4 linked regions of the Homo sapiens genome follow. The protein of the gene in region 4 purifies or fractionates together with the protein of the main gene of each other region. This does not show direct contact. Each region holds a gene or a part of one and is shown on either strand. Other genes may lie near its edges.

Region 1 (5,751 bases), on a different chromosome or scaffold from region 4:
ATTTTTTTTCCTCTGTGAAATAATGAAAGTCTAATCCTTGCTCTTAAAGCTTCAAGTCTACTAGGTACTGTCATGTTGTTATCCACAGTGGCTGTGTAAAATTCAATTCTCTCAGTAAATTTTCATAATTTTTATTTATGTAAATTATTTCTGTAAAGTTTTTGTCTTTTATCATGGGATTTATTTCCCACCACTAACAGTCCAATTACATTATATTCTGTTCTTGGTTTAAAGGAGTAACTTCTGGGGGTCCCGTATGTTTTGATGTGATTATGTGGCCATAAGACTGATTCCAGTAGCCACATGGAAATTCATTTCATTATTTTTTAGTTTATTTTCTGAGTATCAGTGAGAAGTATACGTTTTACAAAACTCACATATTTATCATTTTAAATCAATACATTCCCATGTTGTCATAGTTGTTTAATATTTTCAGTACCATTATTGGCATTATCCTGCAGGTTTCATGATAATAAAGTGAGATTATTGCCAACTATGACAACCCATTGAGTTATTTAATATTTTCTAGTTTTTTTTAAATCCATGAAATGCTCAATCATAATTCATCATTTAAAGCTAAAAATTGTGCCATTACTCCAAATAAGAGAGAGAGATTGTTTCCATTTTTTCCTAAGATCAACCATCAGTGTCCAAAATGTAATACCACCTATGTCCTTTGTGAGGTCTGTGAAACACACTTCATCTCCTTTTTGTGGGGTGGTTTTAAATAGAAGTTTAGTTCTGATTTTAAGTGATAAAATTTCATCTTTTCATAGGATATGAAGAGATCACATTTTATGAATATTTAAAGACTCAAAAATTAACCCCCAACCTCCAATATATTGTCATGCATTCAATTGCAATGACATCAGAGACAGCCAGCAGCACCATAGATGGTCTCAAAGCTACCAAAAACTTTCTTCACTGTCTTGGGCGGTATGGCAACACTCCATTTTTGTTTCCTTTATATGGCCAAGGAGAACTCCCCCAGTGTTTCTGCAGGTAAGTTTGCCATTGATTTTCTTGTCCCTTCTAAAAGTGATACTTGAATAACAGATGAAAATTAGGCAGGCAAAAATGAGATTTATTCAAGATTTAGTATATGCAAATATATACTTTATTCTATTTATTTTTTATAATCTATTTACCTACCTATCTACCCACCTAAGTGATATATTCAGTGTGGCCTCTTTTTGAGCTTGATAAAAATACTATAAATTCCTTTTTCCACTCAATAGCATGATGGAAAGTATTGTCATTGCATATAATTTTAGTTAATTTTTTATTACTATATAGTATGTTATTGTGAATACACCACAATCTATTTTTTCATTTTTCTGTTGATGAACACAGGATGTTTCCAGTTTTTTGAGGTTAACACCCTTGTGTATGTTTCAAGTTGTGTATGTTCAAGAATTTCTCTCGGAAACATATCTAGGGGTGGAATTCCCCAGTCCTGAGATACATGAATGTTAACACTTTACAACATCGTGTTCAGTTATTTCTCTAGAGGGCTGTACCAATTATAACCTTTTAGCCGTACATAAGAATACCCAAAGCTTTACATGTTTGCCAACATTTAAAATTTTTTTGTCAACCTAACTCACATAAATTATCATTGCATTGGATTTTTATTTTTCATTTCCCTAATTACCTATGAAGTTGAACCTTTTCTCATATGTTTACTGGCCATTCATGTTTTATCTTCAGGGAATACTTGTTTGTGTCTTTTTTTGTTTGTTTTACACATTTTTAAAAATTTTTATTTTTTGTGGGTACATAGGAGGCATATGTGTTTGTGGGGTACATGAGATAGTTTAATACAGGCATGCAAAGTGTAATCCATCATGGTAAATGGAGTATCCATCCCTTCACACATTTATCCTTTGTGTTGAAAACAATCCAATTATACTCTTCATTTTAACATGTACAATTAAATCATTATTGACTGTAGTCACTCTGTTGTAATATCAAACACTAGATTTTATTCATTCTTTCTAACTACGTTTTGTACCTATTAACCATTCCTACTTATCCGCTGCCCCCTCAAAACCCGCCCCAGGCTCTGATAACCATCCTTTTACTCTCTGTCTCCATATGTTTAATTGTTTTAATTTTTAGCTCCCGCAAGTAAGTGAGGATATGCATTGTTTGTCTTTCTGTGGCTGGCTTATTTCACTTAATATAATGACCTCCAGTTTCATCCATGTTGTCATGTTGTTGCAAATGTCAGGGTCTCATTCTTTTGTTTTTTTTTTTTTGGGAGATGGAGTCTTGCTCTGTCACCCAGGGTGGAGTGCAGTGGTGTGATCTCGGCTCACTGCAACCTCTGCCACCCAGGTTCAAGTGATTCTCCTGCCTCAGTCTCCTGAGTAGCTGGGATTACAGGCACGTGCCACCACACCTGGCTAATTTTTGTATTTTTAGTAGTGATGGAGTTTCAGCATCTTGGCCAGGCTAGTCTTGAACTCCCGACTTTGTGATCCACCCATCTCAGCCTCCCAAAGTGCTGGTATTACAGGCGTGAGCCACCATGCCCAGCCAGGATCTCGTTCTTTTTATGGCTGAGTATTACTCCAAGGTGTAACTGTACTACATTTTCTTTATCCATTTATCTGTTGCTGGGCACTTAGGTTGCTTCCAAATCTTGGTTATTGTGAACAGTGCTGCGACAAATGTGGTATGTAGATATCCCTTTGATACACTGATTTCCTTTCTTTTGGGTATATACCTAGCAGTGGGATTGCTAGATCGTATGGTAGCTCTATTTTTACTTTTCTGAGGAACTTCCAAACTGTTCTCCACAGTGGTTGTACTAATTAACACTCCCACCCACAGTGTTCAAGGGTTCCCTTTTCTCCGTATCTTTGCCAGCATTTGCTAGTGTCTTTCTTTTGAATAAAAGTTATTTTAACTGGGGTAATAAAATATCTCATTGTAATTTTGATGTGCATTTCTCTGATGATCAGTGATGTTGAACACCTTTTTATATGTCTCCTTGTCATTTGTATGTCTTCTTTTGAAAAATGTCTATTCAGATCTTTTGCCCAATTTTTAGTCATATCATTAGATTTTTTTCCTGTAGAGTTGTTTGAGCTACTTATATATTCTGGTCATTAATTCCTTGTTAGACGGGTAGTTTGCAGATATTCTCTTTCATTCTGTGGGTTGTCTTTTCACTTTGTTTATGGTTTCTTTTGCTGTGCAGAAACTTTTTAACTTCATGTGTTCCCGTTTGTCCATTTTTGCTTTAGTCGCCTGTGCTTGTGGGGCATTGCTTAAGAAATCTTTGCCCAGACCAGTGTCTTGGAGGTTTTCTCCGATGTTTTCTTGTAGTAGTTTCAAAGTTTGAGGCATTAGATTTAATTCTTTAATCCATTTTGATTTGCTTTTTATATACTGCAAAAGATAGGGGTCTAGTTTCATTTTTCTGCATACAGATATCCAGTTACCCCAACACCCTTTATGGAAAAGACTGTCTTTTACCCAGTGTATATTCTTGGCACCTTTGTCAAAAATGAGTTCACTGTAGGTGTGTGGATTTGTTTCTGGGTTCTCTATTCTGTTTTTTTGGTTTATGTGTCTGTTTTTATGCCAGTACCATGCTGTTTTGGTGACTATAGTTCTGTAGTATAATTTGAAATAAGGTAATGTGATTCCTCCAGTTTTATTATTTTTGCTCAGGATAGCTTTGGCTATTCTGGGTCTTTTGTGTCTCTATATACATTTTAGGATTTTTTTTATTTCTCTGAAGAATGCCATAGATATTTTGATATAGATTGCATTAAATCTGTAGATTGCTTAGCATAGTATGGACATTTTAACAATATTGATTCTTCCAGTTCATGAACATGGAATAGTTTTCCATTTCTTTGTGTCCTCTTCAATATCTTTCATCAGTGTTTTATAGATTTCATTGTAGGAATCGTACACTTCTTTGATTAAGCTAATTCCTAGGTATTTAATTGCATTTGTGGGTATTCTAATTGAGATTACTTTTTAAAATTTCTCTTTTGGATTCTTCAGTGTTGACATATAGAAATGCTATTAATTTTGTATGTTGATTTTATACCCTGCAACTTTACTAAATTTGTCAGTCTAATAGGTTTTTGATGGGGTCTTTAGGATTCTCCAAATATAAAATTATATCATCTGCAAACAAGGATAATTTGACTTCTCTCAGCCTCTCCCAGTGGCCACCACAGCCACTGGTCAACTGGGAGTTCTGCCAGGCCACCCCTGATGTTCACTTAAACCCCAAGTACCCTTCAGTAAGCTTGTGTTGAATGCTTCCAGGCCTGGGCCTTACCCTTCATGGCAGTGGGCTCCCCTCTGGCCGAGGGTAGGTCCAGAAAGGCTTTCTAAGAGCCTAGGCCTCGACTTGAGTTCCCAAGAGCCTGCTTGGTGCTCTGCACCCCTGTGTCTGAGTTGGTGTTTAACACACAACACAAAGTCCCCTTTACTTTTCTCTCTGCTTTTCTCAAACAGAAGTCTTTTGCCATAGATACCACAGCTGGGAATGTACTGGGTCTCACCTGAAGCCAGCATGTCTCAGAATCTCACCCAAGGCTCACGGCATACTACCTGGGTATTACTGTTGATTATTTTGTAGCCAAGGGCTTTTAACTAGCAAGTGATGAGCCCTGCCAGGATTGGGTCCTTCCTTTGAAGGCAATGGGTTCCCTTATCGTCCATGGTATGTCTAGAAATGTTTTCTGGGAGTTAGGGTCTAGAATGGTGGCCTCATGACTCTGCCTGGTGTCCTATCTTATTGTGGCTGAGCTGCTATCCAAGATGAAAGACAAAGTCCTTTTACTCTTTGCTCTCCTCTTCTCAAGCAGAAGGAATTAGACACCTTCGTTGCTGTGAGCTGCATGGCCTAGGGTTTGGGGAGGGGTGGCACAAGCACTCCCTTAGCTGCCCAGGCTGTTTCTCCCTAGGTCATGTGCTGCCCTAGTCCATGGGCTCTAAGCCCAGCCTAGCATTAGCACTTGCCTGGGAATTACAGTCCTTGTGTCCTAGATTGCCTTTCAAGTTTACCTAGAACTCCAGAGCACTTTAGCCCATTGTGACAAGGCTTGCTGAGACACTCGAGTTCCAGCTGCTGGGATGGGCCATTCCTTTCTTGCTAGGGCTGGTCCAAATGTTCTCTCAGTGCCACCTGAGCCTAGCATAGCTTTGCTCTCCACTGACAGGGCAGCACCAAGTTCAATGCTACATCCCCCAGTTGCTATGCTCTCACTCCCTCAAATGCATAGATTTCTCTTTCCACACCATGTGGCCACTGCCGTGGAATTGGGGAGGGTTGGCATTGACCATTCAAGACTGTCTTCAGTGCCTCCTTCAGTGATAGGAAGTTGCAGCCTGGTACTGTGATTGCTTACCTGATTTTTGCTTCTTATGATGGTTCTTTTTTTGTGTGTAGTTAGTTGTTAAAATTCCGCATTCCTGTGGGAGGGATGATCACTAGAGGCATCTATTTGACCATCTTGCTCCACCCTCTCATTGTTGACTTTTGCCCATTTGTCTATTGGGTTGTTGTCTTATTGATTTGTAGGAGTTTTAAAATATATTCTGATTAGTGATCTTTTTTCAGTTATATGTGTTGGATGTATTTTGTCTTATGGTTTTTATGATACATAAAGGTCATGAAGATTAATATAGTCAAATAGAGCAATCTTTTTTTTTTATGCTTAGCTTTTTTTGGGAGGTCATTTAGTATACCTGAAGTATAGAGACAAGACTGCTTAG
Region 2 (5,751 bases), on a different chromosome or scaffold from region 4:
TTATAGTCCGCCAGAGCACTAACAGACTAGCAGGCTTAACCAAAAGAGTATGAAGTCATTTGTTGTTGTATTTTCTATAAAATTTCACAGTGTTACAGAAGAAGGCAAATAGCCCATCACATAAGGAATATTTGCAGTTCTAGCTTTAATGAAATTGTCGTGCTGTGTTTTTTTAGACGTCCTTCACACTCTCAAATCTGTACGAATTATTTCAACTGATTGTCTGTTAGTGATTCATTCCTTGGTTTGCCTTCTTTCCTATAGCAGAAGCTGCTGAACAATTGGGAAAGAATGTTAAGTTAGTGGAGCGTTTGGTGGAATGGTGTGAAGCCAAAGATCATGCTGGTGTGATGGGGGAGTCAAACAGACTGCTGTCTGCCCTTATACGACACAGTAAATCAAAAGTAAGTTCCAGAGGAAACTGTTCACTAGAAAACTTCAGAGTGTCTTTTTCAGAAACCCAGCATTGTAGGTCCTAACAACTGGGATAATATTTACCTGAAAGTATTGTGAAGATTCAGTGAGATCATGTATATAATGTGCTTAGCTGATACATGGGATATAGGAAACACTCGGTAAATGGGGGTTGCTGTTGTTGCTGCTGCTATTGTTGTTATTACTTTTACCACCACCGTTATCAGCATCAGTGTCAAACATTCTTTGTGCCAGGCATTGACCATGCAGCCTACTGATATTTAGAAATTAAATGGTACCTAGATAGTATATGATGTCCAGAGCTCACAGAGTTAGAAAAAAATCCATTCTTGTGGCTGGCTGTGCCGCTGTCTGGCACATGGTAGATAACCAATAAATGAACAAATGAGCTATTTTAAAGATCACAATAGTGAGTACCCAGGCCAGCAGTTCAGCAGCTGATTTAGTATCTAGATTATATGATTTTTAAATTTTTTAAATACTGTTTTCTTGTTGGGCGTGGTGGCTGACACCTGTAATCCCAGCACTTTGGGAGACTGAGGTGGGCAGATCATGAGGTCAGGAGATCAAGACCATCCTGGATAACATAGTGAAACCCCGGGTCTACTAAAAATACAAAAAAAAATTAGCTGGGCGTGGTGGCGGGCACCTGTAGTCCCAGCTACTCGGGAGGCTGAGGCAGGAGAATGGCGTGAACCCGGGAGGCGGAGCTTGCAGAGAGCCGAGATTGCACCACTGCACTCCAGCCTGGGTGACAGAGCAAGACTCCGTCTCAAAATAAAATAAAATACTGTTTTCTTTTTCTTTTTTGAGACTGAGTCTTGCTCTCTCGCTCAGGCTGGAGTACAGTGGCACAATCTCAGCTCATTGCAACCTCCACCTCCTGGGTTCAAGCAATTCTCCTGCCTCAGCCTCCAGAGTAGCTGGGATTACAGGCAGGCGCCACCACACTCGGCTAATTTTTGTATTTTTAGTAGAGATGGGGTTTCACCATGTTGGCCAGGCTGGCCTCAAACTCCTGACCTCATGATCCTCCCACCTTGGCCTCCCAAAGTGCTGGGATTACAGGCATGAGCCACCATGCCCAGCCTTTAATACTGTTTTCTAAGGTGACCCTTTCAGTCATTTCTCTTGTACAACTTCAGTAGTGATTATATATGAGGAGAAAGTTTAGAACTCAAATCCACCAGCTGTTTTCATTTATTTTTAGAACAGATAAGAAGAAGATGCCAAGAGAAAAAACGTAAAACTAAAGCTGTTCTTGTATAAATCTCTTTCATATAAATAATTGGCTTCACCATAATAGCTGTCCCAGCTGGTAAGCCTCAGGAGTGTTCTTCTCCATCAGATGCTAAATCTTGAGAACTTTCCCTGGGGAAAAGCAGCTGTTAACTAGGACCTTCCTATTACCTGTCTCACCCAGACCACCCTAAAAGCTCATACATTTTTCCTGACACAGGACCAAGCAGTATGTTGGCAAGGTGGAAGTTGTCAGGAGAGAATAGCAAAATGGCTTCCTTGGTACCCCTTTGACCCCTTCTCCATCATAACTGCTCTCTCACGCCCATTTGTTCATTTAACAGTTAATATTTGAGTTCTTGCAGTGTAAATACTAAAAAATAGTGTTTCTATAAAGGAATTAACTATCCGTTGAGGGGACAGAAATAAAAACAGCTAGCTTAAGTACAGCTTTAAAGCTACGTATGCTATTCGGGTGTAACAGAGGAAAGAAAGACTAACACACTGTCTGGGTAATCTGGGATGGTGCCATAGAAGGAGTGCTATTTTAGGCGTTAACTAGGAATCTCAGGAGGAAAGGGAAAGAGAATGAAGGAAAGGGCCTTTTCAGGCAAAGACAGCAGGATGTACAAAAGCACAGAGATGTAAAACAGCATAATTTTTTAAAGAAACTGCAAATAAAGCAGTATTGCTAGAACACAGAGTGTAGAAAGAGACAGTAGCCAGAGAGGTTGAAAACTGGGAATTAAGTGAATTATATACCAAGTTAAGATATATGGACTTGATTCTGTAGAGAATTCGGGAGCACTTAAAGGGTTTTAAGCAGCAAGTTGCCATTATTTGAGGGTTTTTTTGTTTTCTTTATTTTTTGTTTTTTTGTTTTTTCGGGGTTTTTTTGAGACAGAGTTTCGCTCTTGTTGCCCGGGCTGGAATGCAATGGTGCGATCTCCACTCACTGTAACCTCCGCCTCCCGGGATCAAGTGATTCTCCTGCCTCAGCCTCCTGAGTAGCTAGGATCACAGGCGTGCACCACCATGCCCGGCTAATTTTGTATTTTTAGTAGAGACGGGGTTTCTCCATTTTGGTCAGGCTGGTCTCAAACTGCCGACCTCAGGTGATCCGCCTACCTCGGCCTCCCAAAGTGTTGGGATTACAAGCGTGAGCCACCACACCCAGCCATTTAGTTTTCATTTAGAAAGATGTCTCTAGGGTTTAATGGGGGTAGAAAGGACAGTTATTGCAAAAATATATATGAGAGTTGATAAAGGACTGAATTAAGGTTTTGAGTTGAGCAATTTGAAATTGCTGATATTCAGCCATTTTTGAAACAAATTTCATATGGGTTATTCAACTAGAAGCAGCGAGGATGGAAAAGAAGAGACAGACCTGAGAAAAATATGGGTGGTAGAATTGACAGATTCAACAGTAGAATTAAAGGAGGAGGTAGTTTTAGAGCTAATTCCAAGTTTGGGGTTTACCACCAGATTGGGTTATCATGCCATTCAACAAAATAAAACACTATAGGAAGAGGTGCAGCTAACACTCCCTAAACTTGCCCACTCGCCCATGCTCTTTGGAGTCATTACCCTTAATCTTTTTGCTCTACTCCAAGAGAATCTCCACCATTGGTTTGCAGGGGTATACAATCATTTGGATTTCCCTGGGCCATATTGGAAAACGAATTGTCTTGGGCCACACATAAAATGCACTAACACTAACAATAGCTGATGAGCTTAAAAAAACAAAAATCACAAAAAAAACTCAAACACCTGTGGCATTTGAAGAAGAAGAGAAATCTAAAAGTTTAGAAAACCAGCTGAGTGCGGTGGCTCACGCCTGTAATCCCAGTACTTTGGGAGGCCAAGGTAGGTGGATCATTGTGGTCAGGAGTTCCAGACCAGCCTGGCCAACATGGTGAAACCCCATCTCTACTAAAAATGCAAAAATTAGCCAGGCATGGTGGCGTGCGCCTGTAATCCCAGCTACTGGGGAGGCTGAGGCAGGAGAATTGCTTGAACCTGGGAAGCGGAGGTTGCAGTGAGCCAAGATCGTGCCACTGCACTCCATCCTGGGTGACAGAGCAAGACTCCCAAGACTCTGTCTCCAAAAAAAAAAAAAAAACAAAGAAAACTTTTGGAAAACATATTTGGGAGAATAATCAAGGAAGACTTCTCCAGTCTTGCTAGAGACCTAGACGTCCAAATACAAGAAGCTCAAAGAATACCTGGGAAATTCATTGCAAAAAGATCATTGCCTAGGCATATTGTCATCAGGTTATCTAAAGTTAAGACAAAGGAAAGAATCTTCAGAGCTGTGAAGCAAAAGCACGAGGTAACCTATAAAGGAAAACCTATCAACTTAACAGTGGATTTCTCAGCAGAACCCCTACAAGCTAGAAAGGATTGGGGCCCTATCTTCAGTCTCCTTAAAGAAAGCAATTATCAGCCAAGAATTCTGTATCCAGTGAAACTAAGCTTCATAAATGAAGGAAAGATACAGTGTGTTTCAGACAAACAAATACTGAGAGAATTCACCACTACCAAGCCAGCACTACAAGAGCTGCCAAAAGGAGCCCTAAATCTTAAATCCTGGAAACACATCAAAACAGAACCTCTTTAAAGAATAAATCTCACAGGACCTACAAAACAAAAATACAATTAAAAAAAAAGTGGGGGGTATACAGGCAACAGATAGCATGATGAATGGAATAGTACCTCACATCTCAATACTAAGATTGAATGTAAATGGCCTAAATGTTCCACTAAAAGATACAGAATTGCAGAATAGATAAGAATTCATTAACTATCTGCTGCCTTTAAGAGACTTACCCAACACATAAGGACTCACTTAAGGTAGAGGGGTGGAAAAAGACATTCTATGTAAATGGATACCAAAAGTCAGCAGGAATAGCTATCTTGTATCAGGCAAAACAAACTTTAAAGAAACAGCAGTTCAAAAAGACAGAGGGACATTATATAATGATAAAAGGCCTTGTCCAACAGGAAAATATCACAATCCTGAATATATATGCACCAAACACTGGAGCTTCCAAATTTATAAAACAATTGCCAATAGACCTAAGAAACAAGATAGACAGTAACACAATAGTGGGAGACTTCAATACTCCACTGACAGCATTAAAGAGGTTATCAAGACAGAAAGTCAACAAAGAAACAATGGATTTAAACTATACCCTAGAACAAATGGACTTAACAGATATTTACAGAACATTCTACCCAAAACTGCAAAATATACATTCTATTCATTAGCAAATGGAACTTTTCTCCAAGATAGACCATATAATAGACCACAAAACAAGCCTCAATAAATTTTAAGAAAATTGAAATTATGGCAAGTACTCTCTCAAACCACAGTGGAATAAAACTGGAAATCAACTCCAAAAGGAACCTTCAAAGCCATGCAAATACATGGAAATTAAATAACCTGCTCCTGAATGATCACTGGGTCAATAACAAAATCAAGATGGGAATTTAAAAATTCTTTGAACTGAACAATAAATGATACAACCTATCAATACCTCTGGGATACAACAAAGGCGTTGCTAAGAGGAAAGTTTATAGCCTGAAATAGGCATTTCAAAAAGTCTGAAAGAGCACAAAGAGACAATCTAAGGTCACATTTCAAGGAACTAGAGAAACAAGAACAAACCAAACCCATACCCAGCAGAAGAAAGGAAATAACCAAGATCAGAGCAGAACTAAATGAAATTGAAACAAAAAAGACAATACAAAAGATAAATGAAACAAAAAGCTGATTATTTGAGAAGATGAATAAGATTGATAGACCATAACCAAGAAAAGAAGAGAGAAAATTCAAATAAGCTCACTTAGAAAAGAAATGGGAAATACTACAACTGACACCACAGAAATACAAAAGGTCATTCACAGCTACTATGAACACCTTTACATGCAAAAACTAGAAAACCTAGAGGAGATGGATAAATTCCTGGAAAAATACAACCTTGCTAGCTTAAATCAGGAAGAATTATTTAGATACCCTGAACAGACCAATAACAAGCAACCAGATTGAAATGGTAATTTAAAAATTACCAACAA
Region 3 (5,751 bases), on a different chromosome or scaffold from region 4:
TTTTTAATAGAGATAGGGTTTTACCGTGTTGGTCAGGCTGGTCTTGAACTTCTGATTTCAGGTGATCCACCTGCCTCGTTCTCCCAACGTGCTGGGATTACAGGTGTGAGCCACCGCACCTGGCCTTGTGATAATGTATTATATACTGTGTTCTTACAATCAAGTAAGCTATAGAAAAGACAGTGCCCTTAAGAAGATGATAAGGAAGAGAAAGTACATTTACAGTACCATACTGGACTTATTGGTACCAAAAGTTTAGGTTGTATGTGTATGAGATGAATTGTCTGTCTGAAATGGCGGGCAACTGCAGCCGCAGACCTGAAGTCAGTTGGTACGTTTCAAGGAATTCAACTTTTTCTTGTAATGTCATGACTTTGCTTCTTGGGAGCACTTCCAGCATCAGTGGCATTCCCTGTGGGTCCTACGTTTTACTCAGTGTTTATGGTGTTGCACTAAACACGATGAAAAATATGTGAGAACAAGGAGAGATCACTTTTTACTGTGACAGATAATTTACTGGAGAGGTGAACTGCTCATGCAGAGATGATTATTGTCACATAGAGTTTTAAGATATTCAAACACTTGAGCTCACCACATTAGCAACAAAAGGTGGCTCCAGAGTTATTACAGTAGTACAGTATGTACTGCAGTTAATCTTACGCAGTTAAGACTTAATACTACATCTTTCTTTGTTTACAGTGGCACCGTGTATGGTCTGTGTTTGTGTGCCTAAGTTTTGTGATTAAATTTTAACTTTGAAATAGAATTGCATATATTTATGATAGTAAATAATATCTACATATATTTTAGCATTCATGACATACATAACTTTTTTCTAATTTTTTTGGTATTTCTAGGCTATGCGGTTCATCTGCAAGTTTTTTCAAATTGTCACAAATCTGCTGGGCATGTTGCTGTGCACCTGTAATCCTAGCCACTTGGTAGGCCAAGGCAGGAGGATTGCTTGAACCCAGGCATTTGAGGCTGTACTGTGCTATGTTCACACCTGGGAATAGTCACTGCACCTCTAGCCTGGACGATATATCCTTATATAGCAAGACCCTATCTCTTAAAAAAAAAATCATTTGGCCGGCTACTGTGGCTCATGGCTGTAATCCTAGCACTTTGGGAGGTTGAGGTGGGTGGATCACTTGAGCCCGAGAGTTCGAGATCAGCCTGGGCAACATAGTAAGACCCCTGTATCTACAAGAAATAGAAGAAAAATTAGCTGAATACCCTGTAGTCCCAGCTACTCAGGAGGCTGATGCAGGAAGATTGCTTGAGCCCAGGAAGTTGGTGGCTGCAGTGAGCTGTGGTTGCGCCACTGCACTCTAGTCTGGGTGACAGAGATCTCATCTCAAAAAGGAAAAAAAAAAAATCAAGTAAAATAAAACGTAGAACTGAAAGAAAAAACAAACCTGGCTGGGCATAGTGGCTCATGCCTGTCATCCCAGCACTTTGGGAGGCTGAGGCAGGCGGATCACTTGAGGTCAGGAGTTTGACACCAGCCTGTCCAACATGGTGAAACCCCATCTCTACTAAAAATACAAAAAAAAATTAGCCAGGTCTGATGGTGCATGCCTTTAATCCTAGCTACTCGGGATGCTTAGGTGGGAGTATTGCTTGAACCTCAGGGGCAGAGGTTGCAGTGAGCCGAAATCGCGCCACTGCGCACTCTAGCCTGGGCGACAGAGTGAGACTCCTTTTAAAAAAAAAAAAACATGCAAACCTCCAAAAATTTTTTCAGTACATTTATTGACAAGAAAAAATCTACATCAAGCTTGTCCTGTCTGTGGCCTATGGGCTGCATGTGGTCCAGGGTAGCTTTGAATGCAGCCCAACAGAAATTTGTTAACTTTCTTAAAACATGAGATTTTTTTTCACAATTTTTTTAAAGCTCATTAGCTATCGTTAGTGTATTTTATGTGTGGCCCAAGGCAATTCTTTTTCTTCCAACGTGGCCCAGGGAAGCCAAAAAATTGGACACCTCTGATCTACATAAAAAGTGGCAGTTCAGATGTGTTATTCAAGGGACAACTGTAAATACAGAAAGGCATATCCCATGGTGATCCATTGCTGTGGGGGAAAGAGGAAGGAGGGAGTGTGAGAAGGACGCTTTAAATAAAGTGATCTGGGAAGGCATCAGCATAGATAAATAGTAGTTGTAAAAAATTATCTACCTAGTAGGGACTAGGTGCAGTGGCTCACACCTGTGATTCCACACTTTAGGAGCCTGGGAGTTTGAGACCAGCCTGGGCAACATGGCGAGACCTTGTTTCTATGGAAAAAAAAAAAACACAGTAGGAAACACGTTATTGATTTGAACTTTTTCAATTAGGAGTTTTTCAGAATGAGCACTGGGTGTTTGAAGTATTTGTAATACAATTATATCTGGTTCTCATGCTGTTAACAGCTAGTCATTGAGATCACTATTTGGCGCCATGCATAGCAACATGGAATTAAGGGATGGAAAAACAGCCAGGACGTCTCTACTGTGCTGTGTAAAACAGGAGTGGCACTGATTTCTATCCCTCTCTGGGTAAGGATCAGGTAATGGAGGAAAATAAAGGAGAGGAAAGAGAAGGAAACATGATAGATTTTTATTTTGATTAAAACAAAAGTTGGTAACAGCAACTCAGGTTTCTATTAAATAAACAAAAGTTGGGAGATACTCCAAAATAACTGTTAGTAATAGCTTTAAGTTCTGACAGGCTGTGCCGACCGGAATATGATACCTAAGTTTTAAGTGCATTGAAATAGTGATTCATGTTTCCTTTTGCCTGTCTTATACCCAGCTCTTACAACTACACTTGTGTCTTAAGTATAGTGCTGATGTGGTAATAGGATATTTCTATTCAGCCTTATGCCTTTACTGTGTGTACATTCTGTCCATTTAAAAGGCTGAATTGTAAATCTTAATTTTAAAAAATTAAATGTAGTCAGTTGTCATTAATAGCCTCATGTTTCTTTTTTTTTTTTGAGACGGAGTCTCACTCTTGTTGCCCAGGCTGGAGTACAATGGTGCAATCTCGGCTCAGTGCAATCTCTGACTCCTGGGTTTATCAAGCGATTCTCCTGCTCCAGCCTTCCAAGTAGTTGGGATTACAGGCGTGCGCCACCACACCCAGCTAATTTTGTATTTTTAGTAGAGATGGGGTTTCACCATGTTGGTCAGGCTGGTCTTGAACTCCTGACCTCAAGCGATCCACCCTCCTCAGCCTTCCAAAGTGCTGGGATTATAGGCGTGAGCCACTACGACCTGACCAGCCTCATGGTTTTAATTTTCAGTTTTGTTGGCTGGAAAATGATCTTGGATGTAATATTAAATCTATCAAAACATTAAGCTGTCAATAGAAACATTTGAGAGTTTGTTTTTAAAACTGTAGTTGTATTTTAAAAATAGCTGTACAGCTTAGGAATGGGGGGAGAAGGGAGATAAAATCAGAAAATTTTCTTTTTTGTTGGCTATTTGTCTATCATCTATGATTAGTTGAAATACAGCCTAGTAATAAAAGCTGAGGATTTATAAAGTGGTAATTTGTAGCTTCTTCATCTGTTTTTTAGTGTAAAATGCAGCGAATTGGTTGCTTATGTAGGACTTCAGTAAAATAAGTGACTAGCAGCAGTAGCAGCAGCATCGAAATTTTATCGAGGTCAATTTGTTCTTGTTATCTTAAGCTGTTATCATTAAGTGCCCGGTTGTATCTTAGCATACAGAGGCGGAAAAGCAAGAGCATTCAGAATTTAGGCAATTGGCTGAGTGTAGATCAGAGTTGTCAAAGGGAGACTCTTCAGATGGGTGGCTTCATGGATACTTGTTCAGAGTCACATTTACCTTGTACCTAGTAAGAAACATAATTTGACATTTTTCATTCAGTTAAGTAGTAGTTTTAATTACTTGTAATTGTATGGTAGAATTGAAGACTTTATAAGTAACCTGTTATAATCGTGTCAGTTTAAGGTGTTGTGAAACTGGAAGCCATGCTGTCCAAACTCCCATATCTTAAATTGCATCCTGCATTTTAGGCGCGGTGGCTCATGCCTGTAATCTCAGCACTTTGGGAGGCCGTGGTGGGCGGATCACCTGAGGTCAGGAGTTTGAGACCAGCCTAACATGGTGAAACCTTGTTTCTACCAAAAGTACAAAAATTAGCTGGGCGTAATGGCGGTTGCCTATAATCCCAGCTACTCGGGAGGCTGAGACAGGAGAATCGCTTGAACACGGGAGGCAGAGGTTGCAGTGAGCTGAGATTGCGTCATTGCACTCCAGTCTAGGCGACAGAGCAAGACTCTGTCTCAAAAAAAAAAAAAAAAAAAAAAATTGCATCCTGCATTCCGCAGTTGATAACAAGGCATGTTTAAACTTTGCTCTCATACTTCGTTCTCCTCAATGTCTGATTGTGAGTGTGCTTTTTGAAAAATTCTTTTTTATTTAGGCCTAATGGGATTGTTTGAAAAACGTCGCTTCAGGAAATTCCTAGTGTATGTTGCCAACTTCGATGAAAAAGATCCAAGAACTTTTGAAGGCATTGATCCTAAGAAGACCACAATGCGAGATGTGTATAAGAAATTTGATTTGGGTCAAGACGTTATAGATTTTACTGGTCATGCTCTTGCACTTTACAGAACTGATGAGTAAGTATTTTGGTTTTTAGATTTGTATTTTTCTTGAAATTCTCACTAAATTTCCCAAGTCTTCCAAGTGGAAATTCTAACAAAACAAATACTTAGCCATATTGCACTATGAATGAAGAGGTTCTAGTTGAAATTAGTGTTGGGACCTTTTAAGTGATTTAAATATAAAGGTAGTGGGCCAGGTGTGGTGGCTCACGCCTGTGATCCCAGCACTTTGGGAGGCCAAGTTGGGTGGATCATTTGAGGTCAGGAGTTCAAGACCAGCCTGGCCAACATGGTGAAACCCCCTCTCTACTAAAAATGCAAAAATTAGTTGGGCGGTAGTGGTGCGTCCCTGTAATTCCAGCCACTTGGGAGGCTGAGGCAGAAGAATCACTTGAGCCTGGGAGGTGGAAGTTGTGGGGAGCCGAGATTGCACCACTGCACTCCAGTCTGGGCGACAGAGTGAGACCCTGTCTCAAAAAACAAAAAAACAAAAAAGAAGATAGCGGATTGAAATCGCTTCAAAAAAAATTATAAATTGAACACCATGAATGAAAACTAAAGCCCTTTCCTAATACTCATTTCCTTTCTTCCAGTTACTTAGATCAACCGTGTTATGAAACCATTAATAGAATTAAACTTTACAGTGAATCTTTGGCAAGATATGGCAAAAGCCCATACCTTTATCCACTCTATGGCCTTGGAGAACTGCCCCAAGGATTTGCAAGGTAAGAGCCTGTGTTTAAAACCTCAGTGATCCAAAACCTCATCTTCAACATAATGTGTATATGAGATATAGTTTAAATAATGAGATGAGATCAGTCTATGAGTAATAAGATGCTTTTTATTTTTATTGAAATAAAATTAACATATAATGATATGCATGGATCTTCAGTTAAAAAAAATCCAGTTTTATACAACTGTAGCTGATGTGCTCTTGTAAGTGCCAACTCCTGGCTGGAGGCCAGCCAATACAAAACCAGCGCACTTAACAAAAATACAACCAAGGACCTTCACAGAATCTACTTCACACCCCTGTTACCTCCACCAGAGTAAGTGCTGGTATCCACGCCTGAGAGACCTGGAGACAGATCACATCACAGGACTCTTTGCAGACACTCTCCAGTACCAGCT
Region 4 (5,751 bases):
TTCCATAGTACCTTGTCAATAGTGTTCAGGCATGTGGCCTCTACTTTTGCCCTGGCCCAATGACACTGTTTTAGTGAGTGTGATATATCCTTTAGGTCTGCTCTAAGGCCACAGCCATGAGAAAATAGGAAACTTTACATTTTAAGATGCTAGGACAGTGGTCCCCAACCTTTTTGGCACTAGGGATCAGTTTTGTGGAAGACGATTTTTCCACAGATGGGAGCAGGAGGCGGGGGATGGTTTTAGGATGAAACTGTTCCACGTCAGATCATCAGGCATTAGTTAGATTCTCATGAGGAGCATGCAACTTAGATCCCTCACATGCGCAGTTCACAACAGGGTTTGCACTCCTGTGAGAATCTAATGTCACCATTGATTTGACAGGAGGCAGAGCTCAGCTGGTAATGCTCACTCACTGTTCACCTCCTGCTGTGCAACCTGGTTCCTAACAAGCCATGGGTCAGTACCGCCCCAGGGGTTGGGGACCTCTGTGCTAGAACGCAAAAGCTTTTGAGTTCACTAATTGGAAAAGACCTTTAAAATTTAATTAAGCCTGGTAGATAACGCTTATTTGGTGTTTGCATGCCTGTGCAGATTTTACACTTTCATTTATCTTAGTTTTTATCACTTATGACATGTGTTTGAAAATGGAATAGGTATTCATTCATTCAGCCATTCACCATTTGTGGAGTGTTTCTTTTATGCTGGGAGCTGTGGGTGGCTGCATGTAGACAGGATGGCAGTGATTGTTGCCTTCCCAAAGACACGAACACACCAGCAGTGAGCTCTGTGGCATTGACTGGATTCTTATTATGGTGCTTACCATGGCCCACCATGCGGAACAGAAGTAGTGTGTTGTGATGATGAGAAATACTGACTGTCATCCCGCTTAGTAGACTTGACGGCATGGGAGGGACAGAAAGTTCTTGCTCCAGGTCTGTCTTGGGTACCTGCTGTCGCACAGTGCTGTGCTAACTCTGCTAGAGACAGAAAGTAGGTCAGGCAGGGATCTGGTCCCTGCCTGGGATGGAGAGGCTTCTGGTTGGTTCCTGTGCCACACGCACAGGAACACGGCCCTTGCTGATGGGTGTGAGGCAGGAGGTGTTGCATGTATAGTGGGATATGGTGGGAGTCAAATACAGCGGGGGCTGTGAAGTGGGGAGTTGGGAAGGTTTCTTGGAGTAGGAAGGATTTGAACAGTGCCTAAAGGGACAGGGAAGGAAAGGTGGGTGTGCACTCCAGGCCCTGGCAGGGGGCTTGGATCTCACTGTATTTTCTGGCACAGTCCCTCCCCTCCCAGCCTGCCCACTCTTCCATTGACACCCCCTACTCCCTGTCTCTCTAGCACTGGGTCTTTTATTTTTAATTCCCTTTGCCCCCTTTTTTTTTTTTTGAAAAATTTAAAACTTACACAGCAGTTGAAAGGACTATGAATGTCCCCTAGATTCAGCAGGAGTAACATTTTGTCACTTGTCCTTTGTCTCTCTCTCTCTCTTTTTTTTTTTTTTTTTTTGACATGGAGTCTCGCTCTGTCAACCAGCCTGGGGTGCAGTGGCACAATCTCGGCTCACTGCAACCTCCACCTCCTGGGTTCAAGCGATTCTCTTGCCTCAGTCTCCTGAGTAGCTGAAATCACAAGTGTGCAACACCATGCCCAGCTAATTTTTGTATTTTTTTTAGTAGAGATGGCGTTTCACCACGTTGGCCGGCTGGTCTCGAACTCCTGGCCTCAAGCAATCTGCCTGCCTTGACCTCCCAAAGTGTTGGGATTACAGGCGTGAGCCACTGTGCCCAGCCTGTCTTTCTGTTTATAAATAATACTAAACATTTTTTTTTGAACCATTTAAAAGTAAGTTGCAGACATGGTGGCACTTTACCCACAAATACTTCAGTATGTGTCTTTTAGGAAAAAGGGCATTCTCCTATGTAACCACAATACTATGCTCCCATCCCCTAAATTGAACATGAACACAGGGTATCAAACATATGGTCCATGTTCAGATGTTTCCAGTTGCCCCCAAATGTCCTTTCCAGCTATTTAAAGGGTCCAGTTAGAGATCATGTATTTCATTTGGTTGTCCTGTCTCTTTAGTCACTGTGCATCTAAAACAGTTCCCCTTCTTTTTTCCCCATGACTCTGGCATTTTTGAAGAAGCCAGGCCAGTTGTCTTGTAGGCGGTCCCAAGATCTGGAAGTGTCTGATTGTTTCCTCATTACTTCTTTCAGGTTCATTGTTTGGGTGAGAATACAACGCAGGCGATCTCGAGTGGTCTTATTTTTTAACGTGATCATGTATAATATTAAAATACTCTTTCCCACTTATCTCTGTGGCATTTATTTAAAAAAATTTCTTAGCTTCTGCAAGTGTCAGGCAGTGGTGTGTCTGACACAGAACTTTGACCTCTTGGAGCCTACATTTTAGCAGGAAGGTAGGGAAAATAAATCATATGGTCTGTTAGGAGGTGGTATGTGCTTTATGGGAAAAGAAGGCAAGAGGTGGGAGTGGGCTGGCGGGGGTGACAATTGAGTGTGCTCAGTGTCTTCAGAGCCCAGGATGGAGGCGTCTGCCTCTTATTTACCCGGGGATTGACGCTGGTCCTACAGCTTCCTCCTGTGGTAAGCTGCTGAGCTGTGGAGAGGAGAGTATGTCCTGAGGAGCCAGAGTGGTCTTTTTTGTTACCTAACTTTGTCAGCAGAAATGAGGAAAAGAAAAATGGAATTTTTATTTGAGACGGAGTCTTGCTCTGTCACCCAGGCTGGAATGCAGTGGTGTGATCATAACTCATTATAGCCTCGAACTCCTGGGCTCAAGTGATCCTCCTGCCTCAGCTTCCTGAGTAGCTGGGACTACAGGCGTGCCACCACACTTGGCTAATTTTCTTTCTTTCTTTCTTTCTTTTTTTTTTGGTAGAGATGGGGTCTTGCTGTGTTGTCCAGGCTAGTCTTGAATTCATGGGCTCAAGCGATCCTCCCACTTCAGCCTCCCCAAAAATATTGGGATTACAGGTGTGAGTCACTTTGCCCAGCCAAAAAGTGGGCTTCTTTTTTGTTTTTTTGTTTTTTGAGACAGGGTCTTACTCTGTCATCCAGGCTGGAGTGCAATGGTGCGATCACAGCTCACTGCAGCCTCAACCTCCCAGTCTCAAGTGATCCTCCTGCTTCCGAAAAGTCGGATTTAACATCAGGTCACCAAATGGGTTTTTCACTGTGGGATCTTTTGATGAGTTTTTTTCGAATACATTTCCTTGGTTTAGATGTCTCAGACCTGCTTGAATTCTCTAGAAGTCATGAATGTGGCTTCTGTTTGCACCATATTTAACCCAGAAGATATCTTAGGCTACTTTCAGTTCCCCCAGAGGTGCCTAGGAGACTCGAGTTATCAGAAAATTGAAGGGGCCTGCAGGACAGCAAACAGAACACAGGGAGGTCATTTCCCTTCTATTTTCTCTTCTTTGAACAGGATGTCACAGAGAGCTAGATGCCTTTCTATCAATGTATTTTTTTTTGAAGAAAAGGATACCTGCATTCTCCAGGACTACTCTCTGCCTTCATGGAATCACTTTCCTAACTAGGATCTGCAAATATAATGTGTCGCTCTGGGAGGGAAGGACAGAGGGAGAAAGTGGAGAGAAGAAGAGAGAAAGAGGAGAAGAGAAGAAGAAAGACAGAGAGACACGCACGTACACACACAGACACACGTACACACAGTATGTGGAGTATCACATAAAATTTGCCCACTGCTGGCAAGGAGAAAGAGCAAGGTGTTCTTGTGTGTTTGTTTGTTTTTTAAATAATCAGATTATTGGCCAGGGCATTTACATTTATGGCAAGGTTAATTAAGAAAGTTTTATTTATTTACTTTTTATTTATTTTATTTACTTTTTTTGAGACCGGGTCTTGCCCAGGCTGGAGTGCAGTGGTGCAATCACAGCTCACTGCAGCCTTGACCTCCCGGGTTCAAGCAATGCTTCTACCTCAGCCTCCCGAGTAGCTGGGACTATAGGTGCCCACCACCACACTTGGATAATTTTTTTGGTTTCTTTTGTAGAGATGGGGCTTGCCACGTTGCCCAGGCTGGTCTTGAACTCCTGGGCTCAAGTGATCCACCTGCCTCAGCCTCCCAAAGTGCTGGGATTAGAAAGTGTTTTTTAAAGTTCATCTCATGGCATCAATACTACGTAGTTAATTTATACTTCATTTTAGCAGCTAAAATATTTTCTGAATTTTTTTGTTTGTTTGTTTGAGATGGAGTTTTGCTTTTGTTACCAAGGCTGGAGTGCAGTGGTGTGATCTCGACTCACTGCAGCCTCTGCCTCCTGGGTTCAAGCAGTTCTCTTGCGTCAGCCTCCCAAGTAGCTGGGATTACAGGCATGCGCCACCATGCCTGGCTAATTTTGTATTTTTAGTAGAGATGGGGTTTCACTATGTTGGTCAGGCTGGTCTTGAACTCTTGACCTCAGGTGACCCACCTGCCTCGGCCTCCCAAAGTGCTGGGATTACAGGCATGAGCCACTGCAACCAGCCTTATTTTCTGAACTTTCATAATAAACTTCTAAAGAGCTAATTTTTTAAATTATCAAGTAGTTTAGTCTTTTTGGGCTGTTATAGTAAAGCACCATAGACTGGGGGCTGAAAAACAACAGAAATGTATTTCCTTCAGTTCTGGAGGCTGAAAGTCCACCATCAGGGTGCCAATACGGGCAGGTTCTGGTGAGGGCTCTCTAAGGGGTTGCAGACTGAGTCTTCCCATTGGGTAAGGGAGCTCCCTGGGGCCTCTTCCATAAGGGCACTAATCCCATTCATGAGAGCTCTAGCCTTCTGACCTAATCACCTTCCAAAGGCTCTACCTCCTAGTATTGTCACTTTGGAGGTCAGGATTTCAACATACAAATTTTGGGGATCACAAATATTCAGACCATAACATAAAGTGATGCATGCTAATTACAATTTGAAGGCCAGGCATGGTGACTCACGCCTGTAATCCCAGCACTTTGGGAAGCCAAGGATGGTGGCTCACTTGAGGTCAGGAGTTCGAGACCAGCCTGGCCAACATGGTGAAACCCCCTCTCTGCTAAAAATACAAAAATTAGCTGAGCGTGGTGGCGTGCGCCTATAATCCCAGCTACTAGGGAGGCTGGAGCATGAGAATCACTTGAACCTAGGAGGTGGAGGTTGCAGGGAGCCGAGATTGTGCCACTGTACTCCAGCCCGGGTGACAGAGCAAGACTCTGTCTCAAAAAAAAAAAAAAAAAAAAAAAAAAAAAATATATATATATATATATATATATATATATAAATAAATAAATTTGATCTAATTATGAGGGAGGGGAAATGATCTAGTAGTGAAATGATACATGCTGTTGTAGTTTTAGACTGTAGAGGTGAGGAATACAGGATGATGGCTTTAATCCCATTTTTTAATAATGACACATCATTGTATTAGCTGGCAATATCCTATTTGTTCTCCTCTTTAGTTTGTTTGTAATCCCACAGCCAAAGATAAGTCATCCTGCTTGCCCTCCTTTTCTGTAACACTCACCTCCTCATTTAACTTCTTTTTTTTCTGTCTTTTGTTTCACGTTCGGAGGACGGCTTTATATTTTAGGACCAATGTCAACCTCACCATCCTGCCCTGTATTTCTTCTGTTATGTCGCTGCTTTTTTTCTGCCCCTGCAGGATCATTTTCTTCCATCATTTTAATTTATTTTCTTATTCTCTCCACTTCACACGATGAGTCATCAGCCCGACCT

The links.
Region 1: the proteins of RAB31 (region 4) and CHM purify together in Homo sapiens (affinity purification with mass spectrometry; 4 studies listed by BioGRID and IntAct, with this or other methods). This does not show direct contact.
Region 2: the proteins of RAB31 (region 4) and RAP1GDS1 purify together in Homo sapiens (affinity purification with mass spectrometry; 3 studies listed by BioGRID and IntAct, with this or other methods). This does not show direct contact.
Region 3: the proteins of RAB31 (region 4) and GDI2 purify together in Homo sapiens (affinity purification with mass spectrometry; 4 studies listed by BioGRID and IntAct, with this or other methods). This does not show direct contact.

Annotation. Positions count from the first base shown.
Region 1 is NC_000023.11:85,951,404-85,957,154, reverse strand, and holds part of CHM (rab proteins geranylgeranyltransferase component A 1), read left to right. Parts: intron 1-776; coding exon 777-1,002; intron 1,003-5,751. UniProt on the Homo sapiens protein: Substrate-binding subunit of the Rab geranylgeranyltransferase (GGTase) complex.
Region 2 is NC_000004.12:98,420,991-98,426,741, forward strand, and holds part of RAP1GDS1 (rap1 GTPase-GDP dissociation stimulator 1), read left to right. Parts: intron 1-264; coding exon 265-404; intron 405-5,751. UniProt on the Homo sapiens protein: Acts as a GEF (guanine nucleotide exchange factor) for the Rho family of small GTP-binding proteins (G proteins) that stimulates the dissociation of GDP to enable subsequent binding of GTP.
Region 3 is NC_000010.11:5,784,736-5,790,486, reverse strand, and holds part of GDI2 (rab GDP dissociation inhibitor beta), read left to right. Parts: intron 1-4,436; coding exon 4,437-4,635; intron 4,636-5,213; coding exon 5,214-5,345; intron 5,346-5,751. UniProt on the Homo sapiens protein: GDP-dissociation inhibitor preventing the GDP to GTP exchange of most Rab proteins. By keeping these small GTPases in their inactive GDP-bound form regulates intracellular membrane trafficking.
Region 4 is NC_000018.10:9,714,035-9,719,785, forward strand, and holds part of RAB31 (ras-related protein Rab-31), read left to right. Parts: intron 1-2,226; exon of another isoform or gene 2,227-2,322; intron 2,323-5,751. UniProt on the Homo sapiens protein: The small GTPases Rab are key regulators of intracellular membrane trafficking, from the formation of transport vesicles to their fusion with membranes.